Linked DNA regions of Homo sapiens: regions 1 and 3 are each linked to region 2. Evidence: fine-mapped expression QTL. A gene starts in region 2. Each other region holds a variant in brackets. All regions are shown on one strand. Distances are from middle to middle. Region 1 overlaps SUPT6H (SPT6 homolog, histone chaperone and transcription elongation factor). Region 2 holds the start of RAB34 (RAB34, member RAS oncogene family). Region 3 overlaps FOXN1 (forkhead box N1).

Evidence for each region.
Region 1: its variant is fine-mapped to the expression of RAB34 in whole blood (TOPMed, PIP above 0.99).
Region 3: its variant is fine-mapped to the expression of RAB34 in whole blood (INTERVAL, PIP above 0.99).

What each region holds. Positions count from the first base shown.
Region 1 is chr17:28,662,328-28,670,576 of GRCh38, reverse strand. It overlaps SUPT6H (SPT6 homolog, histone chaperone and transcription elongation factor), which reads right to left. Exons shown (of 37, transcript NM_003170.5): 1 at 8,235-8,249. Among named protein-coding and RNA genes, the nearest start is that of SUPT6H, 4.2 kb to the right of the region's middle. RefSeq lists enhancers at 7,582-8,249, 7,785-8,249. The variant T/C (reference allele first, on the strand shown) is at 4,165.
Region 2 is chr17:28,712,821-28,721,069 of GRCh38, reverse strand. It overlaps RAB34 (RAB34, member RAS oncogene family), which reads left to right and starts at 3,202. Exons shown (of 10, transcript NM_031934.6): 1 at 3,202-3,857; 2 at 4,076-4,167; 3 at 5,012-5,077; 4 at 5,169-5,270; 5 at 5,365-5,429; 6 at 5,563-5,614; 7 at 5,794-5,875; 8 at 5,948-6,038; 9 at 6,170-6,277; 10 at 6,360-6,786. The coding sequence starts at 3,804. The coding sequence ends at 6,427. It overlaps RPL23A (ribosomal protein L23a), which reads right to left and starts at 1,085. Exons shown (of 5, transcript NM_000984.6): 1 at 1,040-1,085; 2 at 180-363. The coding sequence starts at 1,064. SNORD42B (small nucleolar RNA, C/D box 42B) reads right to left here and starts at 520; the gene lies at 454-520. RefSeq lists enhancers at 371-530, 871-1,090, 1,521-1,570, 1,227-1,828, 1,829-2,429 and a silencer at 3,110-3,369.
Region 3 is chr17:28,538,072-28,546,320 of GRCh38, reverse strand. FOXN1 (forkhead box N1) reads right to left here. Exons shown (of 9, transcript NM_001369369.1): 9 at 7,421-8,249. Among named protein-coding and RNA genes, the nearest start is that of UNC119, 10 kb to the left of the region's middle. The variant TATTG/G (reference allele first, on the strand shown) is at 3,451.

The DNA of each region.
Region 1 (8,249 bases), 50 kb after region 2:
GTCTCCTAGAGATAGAAATATGAAAATAAGGACCATAAAATCGTTTTATATATTACAATAGACACACAGAACAGGCACAGGAAGAGAACTGGACAATAAACTCACAACACACACACAAAACCCAATCAAAATAATATGGGTCTCTCTTGGGTATTTTAAGCAATTTTTTAAAAAGTACCCTGAGGAATAATGCTTATTACACACCTACCAAGTGCCAGACACTAACAAATACCCTACTATTTTATGTCCCTATCAAGGAGAACAAGTATTCTATTAATCCCTACACTGTCCTATGAGTTACAGCACACTTCTCTCTCAACAGAGGAGGAAACAGACTCAGAGAGATGTAGTCATTTGTTCAAGGTGACAAAACTATCATCTGTAAGTGCTGAGGTCTGTCTGACTCTTCATGGTTGACAGTACCACATCTATCAATAGTTTTCAGGGCGTGGTCCAGGGGCCAGTCCCTCTGTTCTCTCAGGAGCATAGAGTGGAGTTTTCCAGAGGTTATAGGACATGTGGTTATCACAACAGACTGAATGCAAAAACATATGAGAACACAGCTGTATTCTGTTAGAGCAGACATTAAAACATTGTACTAAAAAACAAAGAATGTCATTCTTACTTAATTTACTTATTTTGAGACAGAGTCTTACTCTCTCACCCAGGATGAAGTGCAATGGCACGATCCTGGCTCGCTGCAACCTCCGCCTCCTGGGTTCAAGCGATTCTCTTGCCTCAGCCTCCCGAGTAGGTGGGACTACAGGCGCTCGCCACCACGTCTAGCTAATTTTTGTTTTTTTTAGTAGAGATGGGGTTTGGCCATATTGGCCAGGCTGGTCTCGAACTCCTGACCTCAAGTGATCCACCTGCCTTGGCCTCCCAAAGTGCTGGGACTACAGGCGTGAGCCACCACGCCCGGCTATTCATTTATTTTTTAAGACAAAGTTTCACCATGTTAGCCAGGCTGGTTTCGAACTCCTGAGCTCAAGTGATCCACCTGCCTCGACCTTCCAAAGTTCTGGGATTACAGGAGTGAGCCACCACACCCAGTCCATTCTTACTAAAATGTTTTGTTTTAAAAACTATTATTATTCGGCCGAGTGCTGTGGCTCATGCCTGTAACCCCAGGCCGAGGCAGGCCGATCACCTGAGGTCAGCAGTTTGAGACCAGCCTGGCCAACATGGTGAAACTCTGCCTCCACTAAAAATGAAAAATTAGCTGGGTATGGTGGCAGGCGCCTGTAGTCCCAGCTATTCAGGAGGCTGAAGCAGGAGAATTGCTTGAACCTGGAAGGCAGAGGTTGCAGTGAGCCAAGATGGTGCTACTGCACCGACAGTGAGACTCCGTCTCAAAACAAACAAACAAACAAAAAAACCCAAAAAACTACTGTTATTCATAAAAAGTATTATTGTTTACTACTTTAAAATAAATCAATAAATATTTTTAAATGTCTCACTGAGTTTTAATTTCGAATCTGGTAAATATCAAAGGATATAACTCACATAAACAAAATGTCTTTGAAGTCCTAAATAAGTTTTAAGAGTATAAAGGGGTCCTGAGTCCAAAAAGTTGAGGAGTGACTGTAAAGACCCTAAAGAGATGCGGTATAGTAAGCCTAGGGGTTAGGGTGATGCTCCCCCATGACCCCAAGATCTCTATCCTTAAGGTCATTTAGCTTGAGCACTGCCAAAAGTGAAAGTCTTAAACTTCTGCCAATTAAATCTAGAGCTCTAATTTTAATTTTGACATTGCTCCCCCTCAGCCCTGAACTGAGCCATTAAAAACAGATTTGAGTACGGCAGCCCCCACACATAGCTTGTTCTAATTAGGCTATCAGACCCACAAGTTCAATCTTTTAAGGCCTCAACATCTTCAAATTAAATGCCAGCTCCTGCAGACCAGATGCCCCTCAGCCTACTTAACAGAGAAACACACAGCCTACCTGATGAAAACAACAGCTTTCTTCTGTCTCAAGGGCAGCTGGTGCTCCATGCTGCACACAGCTTGGAAAGATAGCTGTGTTCTCTTTCTTCCCATCGCCTAGGTTAGCAATAAAGCACACACTATGCTATAGCTGGGGAATGCCTCCAATCTAGCTCAATACCAAGACTTCCAGTTATAAGAGGTGTGCCAGAAGCAATTCTGACTTGCTGCAACTTGCAGGAGCTAGATGTGCAGACTGCAGTAGCACTGCAGTCTGAGACTGACAAGCGGGAACTACTCTAGAATAAAGACACTAATGTATTTATTTGTGTATGATTATTATTAATACATGGTATCTATGATGAGCCTGATGTAGTTTGGATGTTGTATTTAGCACTTATGCTCTTAAAATTTTCCCCATACTCACACTGTAAGTTAAATTTGCAACTGGAATAGGTCTAGAAGGGCAGTGGGGAGATGGAGGGAGAGGTTTCTCTAGTCAGAAGCACAGCTGCAGAACAAGATGTGGCTCAATGGGAGAGGCTGGTGGTTACCATGACATTCGCTGGAAGAGGAATGGAACTGGGATCAGATTGCCACAAGGGAGGCCCTCTGCAGTCCCTCCCTTTGAACAAGAAGTTGTAGTAGGCAATTAAGAGGAGACCAGAGTGAAAAGAGATCTAGTCTGTTAATTCCTTCCACTTTGCAGCTTCAATTAACATTTGCTGGGTTTTTTTTTTTTAGAGTCAAGCTCTGTGCTGGGACTTGTGTATATAAAAATGAGTAAAATATGCTTCCTACCCCGGTGGAGTTCACAGTCTTGGTGGAGTTCACAATCTATCTCAAAAAACTTGTTAATAACGTTATGACAAAGCACAATAGGGTTATGTTAAGTTATATAACTGGACTATGAGAGCAATGGGAAGGTTGGGGAATATCTGAGAAAAGGTGATGCCTGAATAAAAGAGGATTTAAGAAAACAGTCTGGAAAAAGGCAACATGAGCAAACATTTAGGCGTGGTGCTCTGGAGAACAGCCCCAGAAGTCTAGGGTGGAGTTTAAGCTACAAGACATTCCATGTTGTCTTGTATCATATATACATATATATATATAAAACACACACACACACACGTATTTATATATATATACACATATACATATATACACACACATATATACACATATACATACATATGTATACACACACACATACATATATATATATATATATATATATATATATACACACACACACTTTTTTTTTTTTTTTTTTTTTTTTGAGACGGAGTCTTGCTCAGTTACCCAGGCTGGAGTGCAGTGGCATGATCTGGGCTCACTGCAAGCTCCGCCTCCTGGGGTCACGCCATTCTCCTGCCTCAACCTCCCAAGCAGCTGGGACTACAGGTGCCCACCACCACGCCCAGCTATTTTTTTTTTTTTGTATTTTTAGTAGAGACGGGGTTTCACCGTGTTAGCCAGGATAGTCTCAATCTCCTGACCTTGTGATCCGCCCGTCTCAGCCTCTCATAGTGCTGGGATTACACTTGTATCCTATATTTTATGGGCAAGGGACTAGGACTATTCCAAAGGTATCCATAAGTGAATATCCAATTTGGAATTTCAAAACCTAAAAGTTTAATAGATAAAAGTATTTAGAGTCTACTTAAGTCCTTTTAAATCTGGAATTCAGAAGGCTTTGTAATTAAAAAAACCCTGAAAACCTAATTACATGAAGTCAAGATGTTAAAATACAGAAAAAGTTAATTTTGTTCATTTAAAAATATTATTTATTCGGCTGGGCGCGGTGGCTCACGCCTATAATGCCAGCACTTTGGGAGGCTGAGGCAGGCTGATCACTTCAGGTCAGGTCAGACGCTCGAGACCAGCCTGGCCAGCATGATGAAACCCTGTCTCCACTAAAAATACAAAAATTAGCCGGGTGTGGTGGTGCACGCCTGTAATCCCAGCTACTCAGGAGGCTGAGGCAGGAGAATCGCTTGAACGTGGGAGTCAGAGCTTGCAGTGAGTCGAGATCATGCCATTGCACTCCAGCCAAGGTGACAGAGCGAGACTCCGTCTCAAAAAAAAAAAAAAAAAAAGTATTCCTTTTCTTTCCACATTTCTTTAGAGAAACAGGGTAAGGGCTAAAGAAGAGTACAACTGAAATATGTAACCAGATTCAGAACCCCTGCAACACAAAGAGAGATTAACAGTTACTGAACCTTGTGGTACACACA[T/C]TGAGGAGCGCATAGTTCCTGCTCTAGCACAGGGGTTGGCAAACCTTTCCTTTTCTCTATAGGGCCAAATCTGCCACTGTAGCACAGCATACATAACATGTAAATGAATGGGGGTGACCTTATTTGGCTCACAGGCCTTAGTTTGTGACCCCTGATTTAGAGAATTGATGATAAGAATAGCATGGGATCCTGTAATAAGACAACCTAACCTGGTTTTGAGGAAGTGACTTTAAACAAAGACCTTAAGAGTAAGGAGGAATTAGTTCAGCAGAGGAGCTGGCTTCTTTGGAGATGGTTTGGGGAGTGATGTCAGAGACGTGTGCTTCTAGCACAACACGTGTACTGTGGCAGGTACAGAGAAGGCCCAGGAGAGGAAGAATGGTTCATAAGGGTTGGAGAAGTCATAAGGATCTAGGCACTGGGAAGCCATTGCAGGGTTTTAAATGTAGAACTGAACTTAATCTACTTGCTAATCCAACAAAAACTTATTATTTTCTGAGATGGGGTCCTGCTCTGTCACCCAGACTGGAGTGCAGTGGTGTGATTACATCTCACTGCAGCCTCCACCTCCTGGGCTCAAGCCATAATCTCACCTCAGCCTCCCAGGTAGCTAGGACAAATACATATACATATACATATACGTTTTTTTGAGACAGAGTCTCGCTCCATTGCCCAGGCTTGGAGTGTAGTGGCACGATCTCAGCTCACTGCAACCTCCGCCTCCCAGGTTCAAGCAATTCTCCTGCCTCAGCCTCCCAAGTAGCTGGGATTACAGGCACCCACCACCACGTCCAGCTAATTTTTTCTTTGTATCTTTAACAGAGACGGGGTTTCACCATGTTGGCCAGCCTGGGCTCGAGCTCCTGACCTCAGGTGATCCGCCTGCCTCAGCCTCCCAAAGTGTTGGGATTATAGGCGTGAACCACCATGCCTGGCATAAATATGTATTTAATGAGTGCCTACCACATGCCAGGCACGTACAAGACTAGGTCCATGCCCCTAGGATGCCCGTATTCTGGTGCAGGAGACATATTGGCAACAAATAAAATAAACCTTGCTCTAAAAGCGAAGAAGGAAATGCATATTCTCATCTCATCTAAAGTGAGTTTACTTAGGCTGAGATGTCAATAGGTAGGATATGACCTGTAGAAGTAGGAGGAGAGGTTCCAGTAGAGAAAGTGGGCAAGAACATGGTATATAATAGGTGATGTCCTGAGGCTGATGGCACTAGAGCATGGTGAAGGCAGCAGCCTATGAGGGAGAGGTATGCTCAAGCAGGGCGTAAAGGCCATGGAAAGTCACTGGAGAGTTTTAAGTAGGGAAATGACATGATCTGCCCTGATCCAATTCTGTTACATGGAAAATGAACTGGAGGAAGATCTGAGTGGAAACCAGGGAAAACTGAAGATACTGTTGTGGTAGCCCAGGCAAAAGATGGTGGTGGCTTGGAATAAGGTGGTAAAAGTGAAGATGGAGAATAGAAGACAGATTACAAAAACATTCTGCAAGTGGAAGTGACAAGACTTACTGAAAGACTGGGGAAGAGGAGTAGTAAAGGAGAAGAACAAAGATGATTCTCAGAGGTCTATCTTTGGTAACCCTGCGGATAGGAGCACCACTCAGTGAAACGGGAGGATAAGGTTTGCAATGATGAGAAAACCAAAACTTTCTTTTGGTTATGTTAGCTTTGGGTGCCTAAGAAATATCCAAATGGAGATAATTAAACAGGCATTTTTGACGCGTGATTCTGCAACATAGAGGAGAGGGCTGGACTAGAGATTTAAACTTTGGAGTTGCCAACTTTCAGGTGGTAATTAAAGCCATGGGGCTGGGTTACCTAAAGGGAAGCATGTAGAAGGCTCGGGATTCCTGTGAGAATTCCAACATATGTAGATATACATATATTTTGAGACGGAGTTTTGTTCTGTTGCCCATGCTGGAGTGCAGTGGCATGATCTCTGCTCACTGCACCTCTGCCTCCCTGGTTCAAGTGATTCTCCTGCCTCAGCCTCCCAAGTAGCTGGGATTACAGGCGTGTCGCCACGCCCGGCTAGTTTTTGTATTTTTAGTAGAGATGGGGTTTCACCATGCTGGCCAGGCTGGTTGTGAACTCCTGACCTCAAGTGATCTGCCCACCTCGACCTCCCAAAGTGCTGGGATTATAGGCATGAGCCACTGCGACCAGCCCCAGCATTTAGACATTAGATAGAGAGCAAAAGTTGCTAGCAAATGAGACTCAGAAGGAACAGCCGGAGAAATGGAGAAAATCCAAGAGTGAAATGTCAATAAAGCCAAGATGAAAGTTTGGAGGCAGGAGTAACTATGTTGAATATTGCAGAGACAGAGGAATATGAGAACAAAGTATCCATTGGATTTGGCAACATAGAAGTCACTGGTGACCTTGATAAGAGCAACTTCAATGGAGTGGGCAAAGTAGATGTGGTGGCACTTGATTACTAGAAGCTGCCTCAGGAGGACTGCTTGAGCTCAGGAGTTCCAGGTGGCAGTGAGCTATGATGGGGCCACTGCACTCCAACCTGGGCAACAGAGCAAGACCCTGTCTCCACAAAAAAAAAAAAAAAAATGGAGTGGGCAGAAGAGAAGCCAGATTGGTATAAAATGAAGAGTGAATGAAAGTTGAGAAAGCTGAGTTGGTACAGGTAGAAATCTATGAATGGAAATTTAAAAAATTGGCATGGTAATTGGAGAGGGATGTGAAGGATACCAGAACATAATTTGTATGCTGATGGGAACAGTTTCAGGGAGAGACAGGATTTGGTGACTGATTTTATTGGGAAATAGTGGACAGGAAGGAAGACAAGGATTACAGGCAGGACTGATGGTAGTGCCATTTATTAAGGTCAAGAATATAGAATCAGGGCAAACGTATTTGCCTACAAAGATCATGTTTCCACCACACTAGGTAGGCTTTCAGAGGAAGAACTGTAAAATTTGACTAAGCCTCTCCAGACGGTACCACTTTCTGATGTAATTAATCTCCTGATGAAGTTAAAACCTCCTAGAGTTGCAAGGCTATGCTAATCCAATCTAGCAGCCACACAAGCCAAGTGAATAAAAATGTACTTGTACTGGTGAAAGGGACATTACTCGTAAAAAAGGGCTCTAAATTCACAGCTGATGGAAGAGCAGTTATGTTTCTGTAATCAAAACACTGAAGACTTACAAACTGGTAACTTCCAGATAAACAGTGGAACCAGACATTTTTCCGAAGAAATTAATCAAATTCAATATTGTTTACACTCCCTAATGCTCATTAATGATGTAGCTTCATACACCCTTGTTACTTTTGATATTACAGTGAATTTCCACGGAAGTATTTTCAGAGATCTTAGCCCTCTGAAATAAGTATCAGTTCTTGCAACAACCCAGGAAAATTAACTTCTCCAGCTGGTTCAAAGGAGTGCCTGAGGAGAAAGGTAGAAACTAGAAGATGGAGTTTTGACTTAATAACTAATTTTGATGTTCATGATAGGCCTCTGGCAAACGTTTGAGGAAATGAATCTATAGAGAATGGACGGGCTTTAGGACTTCTACAAGACCTTCGATCTTTAGAAAGGGATGAAGGATGCAACCATCTACAAAAAGTTCTATTTGTATTATTCAGCAATATGTAAAGAGCTGGAATTTGGCATCGCCCTCTAGCCTGATGGCCGAGCTGCTGAAAGCTCCACAGGATTCATATCCCCAGAACAAACAACTCGATCACCTGATCCTGGCTCAGAAGCCCCAGGTCCCTTCCATCCCCAATCCTTTTGCGTGGCCCAGTTTTAAAAACCTGCGGAGAGAAGGACGGGATGCCAGGAAGCCTGTTGATTCAACGTGCCACCCGATTCACGGGTTCCGGGTGTCACTGGGCTGGGAAAAGCTTTCGGACTCTGAGCAACTACAGCGCTTTCCTCCCCCTTCCCCCCATAGAGCAGGGAAGGCCAGGCTCCCCCTTCTTCCCGCATACGGCTCCCCACTGCCTCTTCCCTTACGTGACCAGGCCCTAGGAGCCCGGTTCCCCACCTGACTCCTGCGAGAAACACGCTCTCCAGTCGGAACTTTACCTGTCTGAAGCCCGC
Region 2 (8,249 bases):
TCTGGGCTGATCCTGCCAGTTTTGTAAATGCAGCAGAAACAATCTCCTCATACTTCCAATTAGAGAAGCACACTGGACACAATTTGCGTTTGAGAAACCATCACGCAGAGTGAGTGAATTTCCAAATTACCAATGGAGAATACCCAAATCTTTTCATGGGTACAGGGGGCAGTACTGACTTGTTTCTCCTGGGAGCGCTCTTCCGAGGATATTTGGGCTGTCTCCGGAGTCGCAGTGTCTTCGGCCGCCGGAAGGTGGGTGACGTGCGGATCTTCTTCTTTTTGTGGCTGTGGACACCTTTCAACACTGCCTTCTTGGCCTTTAAAGCCTTCGCTTTGGCTTCAGCTTTAGGAGGGGCAGGAGCTGGGAGAAAAGGAAAGAAAACGTGGGTGCGGGATTTAGAAATCGGTCACTTCCGGCCCCAAGAACTGCAGTGGGCCACCCTGGCCACAGGTGCATCAGTGGTTCCTTTGAAGACATCACAAGTGTCAGGAGATTAAAACTTTTCCATCATATGCACGATACCAGAGGCGAAAGCGACCAACTCTAAGTAACTCCAGGGATACGACTATGAAACAAAGTAGCACTGAATGAACGCTTGATACTTTCCAGAAAATGTCCTACGAATTTTACACATACCCCATCGCAAAACCACGCTGCGGAGAGAGGGGCGGGTAATGTAGCCCGGTTGAACATGAACCAGAAGGAAAATGGTTAAAGCTGAGGGCACTAATTCCTTACAGGCCCGGGGACATGGAGCTCCAACCAGTGGATGCATGTAGCTTCCCAGAACCGAATGTCTGGCCCTCCCTGGCGGATGATGCCTGCCGCGTTGCCCCCCCCCAACTCCCTCTACCGGAACTCAGCCCACGAGGCTGGGCCCACGCGGCCCACGTATACTGCAGCGTGTCCGAAACGCAGGGAGCAGCCCCGGAGCAGAGCCCTCAGGGCTTAGCCCAGCAGCCGTGTTCCCAATTCGTTCGCTCTGCGGCGCGGCAATCCCCGGTAAACCAGCTGCGGCCCCATCACCAACACACACCTTCCTTCTTCGCTTTCGGCGCCATCTTGTGAAAAGGGTCTCCAATGCTCGTTCCCACGGGCTTATAGCGCCAAAGAGCACTAAAGACTCGCGATGCTTTGTACTTAGAGCTGATTGGGTAATTTGCAGAGCGGCGCCCTCTGGGAACGGTAGTTAGGTTTAATTTCTTTTTCGTGCGTGAACAAACATGCGCCACTCCTCCCCTCAAAGGCACTAAAGCTTCATGGGGGTTGTAGTTTTTTGTTTTTTGTTTTTTGTTTTTTTTTTGAGCGCTCTGTCGCCCAGGCTGGAGTGCAGTGGCGCGATCTCGGCTCACTGTAAGCTCCGCCTCCCGGGTTTACGCCATTCTCCTGCCTCAGCCACCAGAGTAGCTGGGACTACAGGCGCGTGCCACCATGGGGATTGTAGTTTTTTGAAGACACGCGTTTATTTGCTCAGGCCAGCGGACGGCGTAGCCGGCTGGCGCTCGGGTCTGGTCCCGGGAGCTTCCTATCTTGAGCAACTGCCAGTCTCAGGGAAGAGGATTGCCATGCCAGGAGGCAGGAACGCTGCCAAGAGGAAAGAACACATTTGGATTGACTCGGGAGTTAGATACAGCTAAGTTCTAGAGTGCTGGAGCAGGATTTGCTCGGTCGAACTGAGGTCCAGAGAGGAATGTGGTTTATCAATAACACAGTGATTTGGTGGCAGAAAAAAATCAAGTCAGGGCCGGGCGCGGTGACTCACGCCTGTAATCCCAGCACTTTGTGAGGCCGAGGTGGACGAATTGCTTCGAGCCCAGGAGTTCGAGACCACCCTGGGCAACACGGCGAAACCCTGTCTCTACAAAAGAATACAAAAATTAGCCGGGCGTGGTGGTGCGTGCCTGTAGTCCCAGTTCCTTGGGAGGCTGAGGTGGGAGGATCGCTTCAGCCCTGGAGGTCGAGGCTGCAATGAGCCATTCCAGCCTGGGTGGCAGAGTGAGACCCTGTCTCAAAATAAATAAATAAATAAATAAATAAATAATCGAGTCACGAGGGGGAAGTGTCAGAGGAAGTACAAGGCGGCCACACCTGCCCCTCTTTACCTGCGACACTGATACTGTCAAGTTTTACTGCGTTTCCTGATAATGCATTTGAAGTTCTATGAAAATTCCACACATTTCTCCAAGATTCGCTAGTTTTTCCGGTTAGTAACTTCACTCACAATCCCCTGCCCTAAACTAGTCTTCCCTTCCGTGTCCTGGTCATCTTTACATCCTCAAATTCAGCTCCAGACACAGAGAAAGGTTTCTTAACACTCAGGTTCGCTTCTCCTAAGGTGTGTGCCTAACCCATCCCCACTTGATCCTTTCTTCTTCCCTCTCCCTTCATAAAACCAGACATGTCCCCTTTGACGGTGAAATTGATTGTGCACTGCCCCCTCTTCTATCCTGCAGGACTTTGCACAAAGGAGTTGTCCCTGGGGGATAGATTCCAATGGGGCCAGAACAATGAACACCCATACCAGAGGGGAGTCCCCGCCTCCCAGAGCGGAGACCACCCCGAAGAGCAGAGTTTCCGGGTCCACTTAGCCCTTCTTTAACCTCCCTCGAGGGAACTTGATCTTCAGCCCTCCCACCTCACAATCTACACAGCAGCCTTGAAGGAAAAGACGCCAGACTTCAGACGTCTCTCTCCTCGGTGGGCACCTCATTCTAACCCTGGCACCCCCTTCGCACGCTTCCCCTCCACCATCCTCACCCCCGACCTCCCAGGGCAGAAGGGCGAGAGGGGGCAGACTCTATGAGTCACCTCCCAGGCCTGGAGTTGAGGAGGGAAGCGCCGCCTCTCCTTGGGCCCCTTCTCTCCCCCTTTCCCCTCCCTGCTGGTTCCTGGCATCGCCAGATGCTGCGCAGCAGTCTCCGATTCCCCATCACCAATTCGGCTGGGTAAGGGTCCCCATGAAGGCGCAGCCGGGTATAGAGGTGCAGGGGAGAGCAGCCTGGGGAGTCCCTATCTGGATAGGCTCCAGCCTGGGTCGGGGCGGTCCTGGTGCCCGGTGAAGCGTCAAAAGAGGGAGCCTGAGCGGGGCAACGCAGAAGGGTGGAGAGGAGGGGGTGGCGAGGGCGGGCAGCGAGGCCTGGAGCCGCCAGGAGAGGGGCGGGGGGCGGCCCTTCTCCAGGAATTTCCGGGGATCGTGTTACAGCGTTGGCGGAGCCCGAGCGGAGTGGGACTCGAGGCCCTGTAGCCGGACTGGGCCCCTCGCCCCCTCCTCCAGCGGCCTGCGGGCCTTGGCAGCGCCGCCCCTGCCCACACTGACCCCGTGTGGCGGGGCCGCTCCGCGCCCCCGGGCCGCTCTGTAATGGTAGGGCAGCCTCAGCCCCGAGATGACGTCGGGTCTCCGCGGCCCCGGGTTATTGTAGGAACCATCCGGCCCCGCGTAATCGTAGGAACTATCCGGCCCCGCGTAATCGTAGGGTCTGCGCGGGCCCGGCCCCCACCAGACGGGACTCCCCGCCCCCAATTGGCGGCCGAAGAGTCTCCTCGCCCCAGAGTCATCTTCGGGACGCCCAGGGCCCGGGTGATTTTGGGCTCGCCGCGGCCCCGGGTGATTGTTTCATCTCCGTGGCCCGCGGTGGTCGTAGCGTCTCCGAGACCGCGGACTCCCGTAGGGTCCCCGTGGCCCCGAGTTGTAGTCGGGACACCCCGGCCGCGGGTGATCGTCGGGTCTCCACGCGCCCGGGTCGCTGACGCGGATCCGGCCTCGGCGCCTTCTCAGGGCGCCCTGCAAGGCCGCAGGCAGGATGAACATTCTGGCACCCGTGCGGAGGGATCGCGTCCTGGCGGAGCTGCCCCAGGTAGGCGCCGGGGCCACGTCGGGCTTCAGTCTACAGCCCGGGGTGTGGGCGAGGAGGAGGCGGCACCAGACCAGTTAGAGGACTGGGCCCAGCCCTGCCACCCAGCTAGGCCTGGTGCTTCTGGGTGGTCCCTGCACTCCACCCCTACCCGGGCCGCTTGGCTGCGGGACAAGGGCCAGGAGTAGGAAGCTCCATTCTCTTCCATCCTTCCCACTAAGTGCCTGAGGAAGGAGGCCGCTTTGCACGGGCACAAAGACTTCCACCCCCGCGTCACCTGCGCCTGCCAGGAGCACCGGACAGGCACCGTGGGGTGAGTTAGGGACACCCACAACAAAGAGAGGAGGTCCCAGGAAACTCTGTAGTCATAGCGAGGGTAAACAACCACCCCCTTGGGGCTTCATTTCAGCCCCTACCAGCTATATGGTTATTTCCCCCTCTTTAAGCCCCTGTATCCCCTCCTTTTCTCCCAACAAGGTTGTTGTGAGTTCTATGAGATGGGGTTGGGTAGAAGGGTGGCAGCTGGATTTCTGAGTAGAGACTAAGGTGTCTGAAATGGGAAGGTGGTCACCTGCTCAGATCCCCACATAGCATCCATGGAGCCCCAGGGCAGGGGTCTGGCTGTGCTTACAGGGATGAGTCTTATTGTGGGTTTTAAAGGTAATACTGATAACAGTTGGCACCATTAATTAAGCATTTGCTGTGTGCCAGGCAGTGTTGGGTACTATCATCTTTATTGAATGGAAAAGTCCATCACTTAAGATATATCCTGATTTCAGACATTAAAATGCGGGGGGGAGGGTGTCTTAGAATATAGGACATTTATCTCATTTTAACCTTCACAACGACCCAGTAAAATATATACTAACTTTACTTAAATGTTTAAACTGAGGCTTAGAGAGGCTAAATAACGTGTCCAAAGTCACACAGCTAATCAGTGTGAGAGCTGGGATTCAAATTCATGTCTCTCTGCTTCTGGAGCACAAAACACTCCTCCTCCCCAGCACACCTGTCCACGCAGCTGCCTGGGATGCCTGGTGTCTATAATACCCTCAGCCTGGGTGCAGCTACCTTTCTGGACCTAGTCGGGAGCATTGGAACTCCCTAGGGTGAAAGAGCTCGTGCCCACTCCCCTTGCCCACTCTTGTGTCCAGCAGATTTAAGATCTCCAAGGTCATTGTGGTGGGGGACCTGTCGGTGGGGAAGACTTGCCTCATTAATAGGTAAGGGGGTGCTGGAGCTGAGCTGGGCAGGGTGGGGCCAAGCCTAGCCAGGTGGGCTGGCTCCAGATCACAGCATCTGGTACCCTCTCAGGTTCTGCAAAGACACCTTTGATAAGAATTACAAGGCCACCATTGGAGTGGACTTCGAGATGGAACGATTTGAGGTGCTGGGCATTCCCTTCAGTTTGCAGCTGTGAGTGCTTCCACACCCCTTCCAGCTATCCCTTCTCCCCAGCACCCACACCCCCCAAGATACATACCTGTGCTTCACTCTTCCTTCCTTCCAGTTGGGATACCGCTGGGCAGGAGAGGTTCAAATGCATTGCATCAACCTACTATAGAGGAGCTCAAGGTAAGGGGCTGGGTGAAGTGGGGTAGGTGGGTCTCAGAGTGCACATGGCTTCTCATATGGAGCTGGAAGGATTGGGGAAATGAGCAGTAGTGTCTTCCCTGTCAACCTGGGGCTGTTTCTGCCACTCTTCCAGCCATCATCATTGTCTTCAACCTGAATGATGTGGCATCTCTGGAACATACCAAGTAAGTGAGCATCCTGCAATATAATGGGAGGCTCCGGGAAGAGAGGGTTCAGAACAGAGGGGTGGTCAGGAAGAAGAAGAATGCATGTAGGACCAGAGAGGGGGTAATTGGGCCTATGAATGTCAGTGGGAGGGGCCCTGCAGACTCACTCATCCCTTACTTTCCACCTCCCATGGCAGGCAGTGGCTGGCCGATGCCCTGAAGGAGAATGACCCTTCCAGTGTGCTTCTCTTCCTTGTAGGTTCCAAGAAGGATCTGAGTGTGAGTGTGCCAGTGGGGGGACTTCCCAGCTTGGTGAGGGAATGCCCCCCTCTGACTCTGGCCTTCCCTCAGACCCCTGCTCAGTATGCGCTGATGGAGAAAGACGCCCTCCAGGTGGCCCAGGAGATGAAGGCTGAGTACTGGGCAGTCTCATCTCTCACTGGTGAGTTGGAGGCTTTAGGGCTCTGCTGTGACACTCTTGCCTGGCTCTCCTCTCACTGCTACACCTCCAGCTGTGCCCTGTGTCCCCAGACCCAGCACTGCCCCTGAGCACCTATCTGCTCTCTGTGTCAGGTGAGAATGTCCGAGAATTCTTCTTCCGTGTGGCAGCACTGACCTTTGAGGCCAATGTGCTGGCTGAGCTGGAGAAATCGGGGGCTCGACGCATTGGGGATGTTGTCCGTGAGTGCTTGCCTGGTTGAGGGTGGCAGAGGGCACAGTGAGCCTCCAATCCCTGCTTCACATATTTTCCACCCTTCTTTAGGCATCAACAGTGATGACAGCAACCTCTACCTAACTGCCAGCAAGAAGAAGCCCACATGTTGCCCATGAGGGCTGAGGAGACTGTTCAGAGACTGCCCAGCCCTAGGGCACTGTGCCACCCTCATTCCTCCAGAGCTTGACCCCTGGACATTTGCACTGACTTTATCCAGACCAAAGAGCTGCCTCTTGGTGGCAGTATTCCCACAGAGGGGTAGCTGGGATCATGCTAGTCACTTCCTGCCCCCAGGCACCGTGCCAAAGACTGGATGCCCCCTACTCCTCAGGGGACTGTCCAGGGCGCCCAGTGGTAGTGAGGGAGAGTGTCTCTGTTCTTTTGCTCAGCCTGCTGGGCCCTTTGTGTTTGAGGATGCTTAATGATTCCAGCCTCTCACTGTGCCTTATGCATTAAAATTTCTTTGTTACGAGCACTTTGGGGCTGGAGTTCTTTGTTGGGGATGATGGATGTGGAATGGGCATGACTGTGTGGCCATTTTGGCACTAGAGTCCCCTGGGGATGCTGTGCTGGCCATCCCTGGCCCCTGGGCAGGTTCAGGTAGGCTGGGAGCTGAAACATCAGTTTGGGGGCTGCACTGGGCCCTCACTGGGTGAAGTCTGAATGGCTGGCTTTGAGAGCCCTTTCCCCTGATCCTTTCCCCACACGTGTCCTCCTACTTGGTGCTTATACCCAAATTTTCACCACTGGAGAATCTTTTTCTTTTTTTCACCCTTTTCTTGCCTTCCCTTTAAGAAGTACTTTTCCAGGCAGGGTGCGGTGGCTCGTGCCTGTAATCTCAGCACTTTGGGAGGCCAAGGCAGGCAGATCACTTGGATTCAGGAGTTCGAGACCAGCCTGGCCAACATGGTGAAACCCGCGTCACCATTAAAATCCAAAAATTAGGCCGGGCGCGGTGGCTCATGCCTGTAATCCCAGCACTTTGGGAGGCTGAGGCGGGCGGATCACGAGGTCAGGAGATAGAGACCATCCTGGCTAACATGGTGAAACTAAAAATGCAAAAAATTAGCCAGGCGTGGTGGCTGGTGCCTGTAGTCCCAGCTACTTGGGAGGCTGAGGCAGGAGAATGGCCTGAACCTGGCAGGCGGAGCTTGCAGTGAGCCGAGATGGCACCACTGCACTCCAGCCTGGGTGACAGAGCGAGACTCTGTCTCATAAAAAAAAATAAATAAAATAAAATACAAAAATTAGCCGGGCGTGGTGGTGCATGCCTGTAACTCCAGCTACTTGGGAGGATGAGGCAGGAGAATTGCTTGAACTCAGGAGTTATAACCATTAACTTTTCTTTCTTTTTTTTTTTTGTTTGTTTTTTTGGTTGTTTATGCCATTAACTTTTATAAGAAAGAAAGGTGACCAAGACCCTGGCTCCCTGTTGACATCTAACCCAGAGTTCCAGAGTAGCTGGAAGCACCTCAGACATCTGGGTCAACAAAGGAGGACTTATGGCCTCGTGTCATCCTGGGAGGCTAAGGGGGTGTCCAAGTTAGAAGGCAGATTCTGGCTCCCAGTTGCCAAGTGCTCTGTCTGTTCCATTCCTGGTTCCATTCTCACCAGGATGGTTGGTTTTTCTGCACACTTCCCTTCTCCTGGCTTCCCCTCCCTCGCAGTTCCTAGACTCTCTAGAGCTACCACGGGAAGGAGGGTCTGGGCAGCAGCCCTACCCACTCCGGACTTGGGTCTGGAGGAAAGTGAAGGTGGGGATCAGGCAGAGCAATAGTAGCAGCAGCAGAGCCCCTGGATGATGGTGGAGAAAACAAGGTGTGGACCCCATCCTTTCTCCTCCTCTTCATCCTGGCTTTGGAAGCTGGTGCCAAGAGAAATGGAGGGGTGTGGTGCATGGAATGTCGTCGATATGGCCATAACTTCTTTTCACACTCT
Region 3 (8,249 bases), 170 kb after region 2:
ACTGGGTTGTGTTTTTAGCCCTCATGATAGACGGTGGCAGGGCTTTGGCTAAGGCCTGGAGCCATCTCCTTGCCCTCAGCTGCCTTGGGGAGCCCCCATGCCTGGGTAGCCCTGCACATAACACTGCCCTCAGCCTCCACCCCCACCCCAGACTCAGAGGAGGGGGCTGCTTAATGGAGGAAATTCAGGAACTGAGGTGGGCAGAGAGCACACCCTACAGTTTCAGGCCCTCCTTCAGATATGCCCAGAGCTGACGCACCCTCTGGGCTGAGGAGCTCTGGCCCTAGGAGGCCCAGAAGTGCTGGCATTCAGCTTGATTCTGTGAAGCCCTTGCTGGGGGAAGTGGGGTGGAGCTAGGATCTGCACTGAATTCTGGGAATTCTGAAATGAGTGAGACACAAGGAACACATACTCGTCCCTAGGGAAAAAAAAAGGACTGGGGACACGGAGAGCAAGAATCAGAGTCGTTCTGTGTGGAGGGTTCTGGGGAGGATTTTTAGAGGAGGTAGCACTGGAGCAGGTGCTTGTGATGGAAATTGATGGGGAAGAGTGCTTAGGCACAGGGAACAGCATAAACAAAGGCTCAGAGGCAAGATTTGTCAGGTGTTTGTTTGTTTGTTTACTTATTTATTTGAGATGGGGTCTCCCTCTCAAACTCCTGGGCTCAAGGGATTTTCCTGCCTTGGCCTCCCAAAGTGCCAGGATTATGGGCATAAGCCTAGGTGTGTTCAAGAGTCAATATGATGTGAAAAGAAGACAGATTGGCAGAGCCTTAGGAGCAGGGCTTCTGAGAAGTGGGGAGCCCCTGTGGAGGATTAAGTGGGCATGACCTGGTCAGATTATCTCTGGCTGCTGAGTGAATGGTGGATTGGAAAGAATGACACTAATAGCCAAGATTTACTGAGTGCCAGGCTGGGTGCTCTACATGTGTTAACTCATAAACATGGTCATTTCTGAGGAAGGCACTATTATGATGCCCATTTTACAGAAAATGTAGGTCCAGAGAGGTTAATGTACCCAGCCAACGTTGCACAGCTATGAAGTGGCAGAGCCAGGACTTGAATCCAGGCAGTCCGGCTCCATGCACTACCATACTAAAGGCAGGGGGGCAGTGAGGATGAGGAGGGTGCTGCAGGAATCTGGTGAGAGAGAAAGAGAAACTGAATTAGGTCAGTATCCTCAAAGATGGAGAGAAACAGGTGAAACTGATATTTTTAAGAGGTGAGATCCTCAGGAGTGGTGGCTGATTGGATGAGTGGGTTGGAGAGAGGGAGGAGGTGAGGCTGACTGCCTGGTTTGTGGCCTGGGTGCTGGGGTAGCTACAGGTGCCATCACTGGGTTTGGGAATGCAGGTTGGATCAAGGTGGATGCCAGCAGGAGAGGGTGACTTCAGACTGGGACATGCTGTGGCATGGAGGAAATTACCAGAAGACAGGAAAGGTGGGCCCTAAGACCAGGAGGGGAATAAGGGCTGGAGGTGGTGATTGTCGAGGCCATCGGCCACAAGGTGATTTCTGAAGCTATGATGGTGGCTGAGATCATGGGGTCCTCCACTGACACTCTTGTTATTTAGGAATGCCAAATGTCCTGCAATTACTGGGATTCTCCCAAACAATGCTATTATAATACAAATCCCCATCCCCTAATTGAGGGTGCCTGAACGAGAATGTATCACCTTAGGGAAGGCCAGTGTTTGAGAGCAGGGCGGAAGGAAAGGAAACAATGGAGACAGGAGGAGTGAGCCTCCAGGGAGGTGGGAGCAGAGCCATGTTTTGGAGGAAAGAATTTCATCACAAAGCAAGTGGGCAGGAACTATCAGTTGCCACAAAGGTAAAGAAGGAGAATGAGGACAAGAATGTGGAAGGGAGGGATTTGTTTGCAGATGAGGCTGTACAGGTATGAAAGAAAGGCCAGTATAGGGGTGATTTTGCTGTTGTAGTTTATGGGGTTACAAGTCTGCAGAGAAGGTATAGCAAGGAAGAGGACCTTTTCCCAATACCCTGATAATAGTTCTACTCACTGCAGCTGCTAAGTAAAACTGGGTTGAGGTTCTAGATTGGGCCTGCTGCACTTCCATCTTCAGAGAGAGAGGAGGGTCCCTATTCTGAGGTTCTCATCTCTGAAGTAGGCACCCAGTTGGCACTCACCTTGAAAAGAGGCCTGCGTTCCTTGGGCTTGGAGGAGCCTAGGTTGGGAAAAGCCTTGGCCCCATGCCTTCTTTTAAGTCTTCATGCCTCTGGCACTAGTCCTATTGCAAATGGTACATCTTGCTGCATTTAGTTCCTGGCACTGTCCCTAGGAACCTAGAGGCTGCCTGGGAGGAAGACAGGGTGGAGGTGGGGCTAGTCTTGGCTCTGATGTTGATGAGCTGTTGACCTTGAAGGGGCAATTCCCTTTTGTCTCTGAAATGGGCCAGTCATTTTTGCTTTGACTCTTTTTTTTTTTTTTTTTTTTTTGAGAAGGAGTCACGCTCTGTCGCCCAGGGTGAAGTGCAATGGCATGATCTCCAGGGTGCAGTGCAATGGCATGATCTCGGCTCACTGCAACCTCTGCCTCCCGGGTTCAAGTGATTCTTCTGCCCCAGCCTCCCAAGTAGCTGGACCCATTACAGGCACCAGCCATCATGCCCGGCTGATTTTTGTATTGTTGTAGAGACGGGGTTTCACCATGTCGGCCAGGCTGGTCTTGAACCCCTGACCTAGGTGATTTGCCCGCCTCGGCCTCCCAAAGTGCTGGGATTACAGGCCTGAGCCACCGTGCCTGGCCTGCTTTGACTCTTTAGGGGTGTCATGAGGATCCTGCCCCTGGGTAGAGAAGGAAAGCCCAAGTACCACAGGGAAACCCACAGCTCGTGCCCTCCTGGGCTGGCCGGCAAGGTGCTCACTGGGACTGCCAAACCAGTGGTTAAAATACTAAGATCTTCCCTTCCAGCTGTTAAAAAGCTGCTGTCCCAGGCCGCCCTAGCCTGGCCCCTCCCCTAAGAGTCACCCTCCACTTCCCCACCATCTGGCAACTAAAGCAAGGACATTACCCTTTTTTTTTTTTTTGAGTCAGGGTCTCGCTCTGTTGTCCAGGCCAGAGTCCAGTGGCACAATCATGGCTCACTGCAGCCTCAAACTCCTGGGCCTAAGCAATCCTCCTACCTCGTCTCCCAAGTAGCTGAGACTACAGAAGCTACATGTGCCACCATACCCAGCTAATTTTTTGTAGAGATAGGGTTTTGCCATGTTGCCCAGTCTGGTCTCGAACTCCTGTGCTTAAGCAATCCTTCTGCCTTTGCCTCTCAAACTACTGGGATTACAGGCCCAGCCCCTTGCTTTACTTTTCTATGTGTCACAGACTCTCTTGTTGTCAGTCTGCTAAAGCCTATGGACAATAAAAAGGATTTTAGGAACATAAAATATATTGTTATCCTATTTATTTATTTATTTATTTATTTATTTATTTATT[TATTG/G]GGATAGAGTCTCGCTCTGTTGCCAGGCTGGAGTACAGTGGCACAATCTCGGCTCACTGCAACCTCCGCCTCCCAGGTTCAAGCGATTCTCTTGCTTCAGCCTCCCGAGTAACTGGGACTACAGGTGCATGCCACCACACCCAGCTAATTTTTGTATTTTTAGTAGAGGTGGGGTTTCACCATGTTGGCCAGGATGGCCTTGATCTCTTGACCTCATGATCCTCCTGCCTTGGCCTCCCAAAGTGCTGGGATTACAGGCGTAAGCCACCCTGCCAGGCCTATCCTATTTATTTTATGTATTAAAAACTATATACAATTGGCCATAGGTTCCGCATCTGTGAATTCAGCCAACTGTGCATCAGAAATGTCTGTACTGAATATGTGCAGACATTTGTCTTGTCATTAGTCCTTAAATAGTACAGTATAACAATGATTGACAAAGGATTTACATTGTATTAAGTATTATAAGTAATCTAGAGATGATTTAAAGTATACGGGAGGATGTGTGTAGGTTATATGCAAATACTCCATCATTTTATATCAGGGACTTACTTGCACATTCATGGATTTTGGAATTTGTGGGAGGCCCTGGAACCACTGTGAGATGACTGTGTGTGTGTGTGTGTGTATCTACAATCATGCACTAGATATCGATGTGTCTGTCATGACAGACTACATATATGTCGACAGTCACATAAGATTATAATACTGTATATATATATATATATATATATATATATATATGTTTTTTAAGACGGAGTCTTGATCTGTCTCTCAGGCCGGAGGGCAGTGGCACAATCTTGGCTCACTGCAACCTCTGCCTCCTGGGTTCAAGAGATTCTCCTGTCTTGGCCTTCTGAGTAGCTGGGATTACAGGCGTGTGTTACCACGCCTGGCTAATTTTTTGTATTTTTAGTAAAGATGAGGTTTCGCCTTGGTGGCCAGGCTGGTGTTGAACTCCTGACCTCAAGTGATGTGCCCGCCTTGGCCTCCCAAAGTGTTGGGATTACAGGTGTGATCCACCGTGCCCGGCCAATACTGTATTTTTTACTGTACCTTTTCTATGTGTTGTAGAAACACACATAGGCATTGTGTTACAATTGCCTACAGAATTCAGCACACTAATATGCCACACAGGTTTGTAGCCTAGTAGCAATAGGCTATCCCATAGAGCCTCTAGGTGTGCAGTATGCTCTACCATCTAGGTTCGTGTGAGTAAACTCTATGATGTTTGCACAATGACAAAATTGCCTAAGGACACATTTCTCAGAACGTATGTCTGTTGTTAAGCGACAAATTACTTTATGTGTGTGTATATGTGTGTGCATGTGTATATATTTGTACATATTTTGTACTATCTATAATACAATTACAAAATATCTGTGATTTCTATTGACAAAGTCACAGGTATTGCCAATGCTAGTGTGATTTGTTGCTGACATTCACAATAGAGGGAAATTCTAGATTTCAGGTAAGGATGAGAGAAAATGAAGATGTAACTTTTTCATGCAAGTTCCTGACCTGGGAATTCTAATCCATTTGAGATCTCTCACATTTAGAATCCCTGAGCAAAAGGATTAATTCCCTCCAAATAACGGACTTGAAGACGCTGCATCCATTCAGACAAATTGTTGCTCACCCTGGCCAGGTGTGGTAGCTCATGCCTGTAATCCTAGCACTTAGGGAGGCCAAGGAGGTGGCGTTGTTTGAGCCTAGGAATTTGAAACCAGCCTGGGCAACATAGTGAGACCCTACCTCTACAAAAAATACAAACATTAGGTGGGTGCGGTGGCCCACGCCTGTAATCCCAGCACCTAACAGAGGCTGAAGTGGGAGGATCACTTGAGCTCAGGAGTTCAAAACTAGCCTGGGTAACATCGCGAGACCCCATATTTACTTAGAAAAATAAAATTAAAAAGATGGTTGCTCACTCTAATAATGGCTATATGCTTGGTATGGGGTGGCCAGCAGGGGGCAGCATATGAGTGGGAGTGTGGGGCTCATTTCAGGGTGGAACTGAGGCCCAGTTAAAAAAAGTCTGAGGGCCTGGTTACACTCTCTCTCTCTCTCTCTCTCTCTCTCTCTCTCACACACACACACACACACACACACACACACACAAAACTAGACCCAAGTCCTACCTGCTTGCTACCTGTCTTCTTGCATTAGGGGCCAGTTCACACACAGGTGTGCTGAATGTGCCCACTGGCCAGAGTTTTGACAGAGGGTCTCCTGGAGGAGATGGCCTAGCCTGGGTATATAAGGCAGGTTTGTCTGAGCTCTCAGAGTCTCAGGACCCGAGGCAAGCAAATGGGTCCCAATAGGATTCTCCCAGGAAACATTTGCCCTGTGTTTGGGGGCCTGGATGTCATCAAGACACAGGCCCAGGGTTGGACAGAGCTGGTGTGCAACATCGCCTGAGGTCTTGGCAAAGAGCCTGCACCTGCTTCCTACACAGCCAGGGCCAGGCTGGGGCAGGTGGGCCTTCCTCTTGGGTGCACCCGCTGGCCATGCCTTCCCCACTCCCTATCCTACCTCAGCCCACCAGCCCTGCATCTAGCCTTCCAGCCTCTGCTGGGGCGGGTGCTGGGGTAGGTGGGGTTCTATTATGGGGTCTTTTGCAGACCTATCCTCTCAGAGGTAGGTGTTGGCTGGCCCCCTGGGCCCAGCCCCAAGAAGAGCTTTGTTTTTTTTATGAGACAGAGTCTCACTCTGTCACCCAGGCTGGAGTGCAGTGGCACAATCTCAGCTCACTGCAACTTCCACCTCCCAGGTTCAAGTGATTCTCCTGCCTCAGCCTCCTGAGTAACTGGGATTAAAGGTGCCCACCAGCACACTCAGCTAATTTTTGTATTTTTAGCAGAGGCAGGGTTTCACCATGTTGCTCAGGCTGGTCTCGAACTCCTGATATCAAGTGATCCACCCATCTCGGCCTCCCAAAGTGCTGGGATTACAGGCATGAGCCACTGTGCCTAGCCATCCAAGAAGTGCTTTCTTTTCTTTTTTTTGAGACAGAGTCTCACTCTGTTGCCCAGGCTGGTGTGCAGTGGTCCAATCTCGGCTCACTGCAACCTCTGCCTCCCGGGTTCAAGCGATTCTCCTGCCTCAGCCTCCCTCCTGAGTACCTGGGATTACAGGCGTCCACCACCACGCCCAGCTAATTTTTGTATTTTTAGTAGAGATGAGGTTTCACCATTTTGGCCAGGCTGGTCTTGAACTCCCAACCTCAGGTAATCTGCCTGCCTGGGCCTCCCAAAGTGCTGGGATTACAGGCGTGAGCCACCGTGCCCAGCCTTCATCCAAGAAGAGCTTTCTAAGCAGAGACACCACTTGTGGCTGCTCTGGGACCTGGGGATCATGTATGTGCTTTTGGCTCCCACATCTGCCCCATCTCTCTTGAGACAGTGCTGCGGTGACACCAACCCCACCTGGAGGTGACACCTAGGGGGTGAGTCTGAAGTGGGACTGAGTGAGCCCCTGACCATCCAGAGACCACTCTCCAGGACCAGCAGTGCACACAGCACCAGGGCATGCTCCATTTTGTCACCTGTGGAACTCAGGGCCCCAAACCACTTGGCATCTCTTTCAGCCAGGGACAGATTGGAAGCAGAAAGGCACAGTTTGGACAGGGCAGCAACTCCTTCTTGTGTGAGGAGATGGGGGTGCAAAGAGGGAGTGGGCAGACCTCAGAGGCAAGGGGTCTGGGGGAGGGCATCCCCTCCATTCCTCTGGCCAGGGCAGCCTCTTCCCTGCATCTCTTTGGAAGTTCTCCTGGGAAGAGGCCCTGCTCACCTGCTCCTCAGCCTCCCCAGTGGGTCAAGAAGTTTTCCTAGATGCCTCACTCTTTGGATTAGAAACTTCCTAGTTCTGGGTGAGGGTGACAGGGACGTCACAGGCCCAGGGCATCTGCCATCAGTGTGGCCTGGCCATTTTGCTTAGGGAGAGGGGCCAGAAATGAAAGCTTGGTAGTGAGACCACAAGGCACTTGCTTTATTGTTCCAGGACAGGGGACAATGACAAGCCATCGCGGGATCTGCTTATGCCTCCTATAAGCCTGGGGCCAACCTGTGGAAGTTCTTGTCACCCCCAGGCCCAGGGTGGGCTGAGGTTCCCCCTCGATGGGGTCAGGCTCATGGCAGGCACCTGGGCCACACCCCGCAGGGCCAAGGGTATCCCTTGTGCTTCCCGGGCACCCTAGGTCTGCCAAGCAGTCAAAGCGGGGGTGCTTTGCATGGGTGCTTCCCTGTCACCCTGTGCCAGGCTTTTCTCCTGAATGCCCAGGTTGCCTGAGACAGTTGGAAGTAACTAACAGGTGCTCCTCAACTTATGATGGGGCTACATCCGGAGAAACCCATCGTGAGTGGGAAACATCGTAAGTCGAAAGTGGTTTTTGACTTTCGGTGGTTTCAATTTACAATGGGTTTATCGGACATAACCGCATCCTAAGTCGAGGAACATACTGAATGTGTATTGCTTTTGCACCATCTTAAAGTTGAAAAAGTGTAAGTTGAACCATCATAAGTAGAGTTAAGCCAGGACCTAAACTATGTGAACTTTTCTTTCTGGAGGAGGAGTGAGATTGTGGTGACCTGGAGGGGGCCCTTCCTGCACCCGGGACTGGGGAAAAAGGACATGTTCAAGTTTCCGAGGGCAAGGGCTTTTCCAAACACTGCTTCGGAATTGGGCTCAGTTTGGTGCCCGGGTAGATGTTGCCCCTTCTGTATGTCACCCTGGGGAAAGCTGGACAGAGCATGTACTAAGGATGGGTAGAGAATGGCTGAGTGGGTGCTGCCAA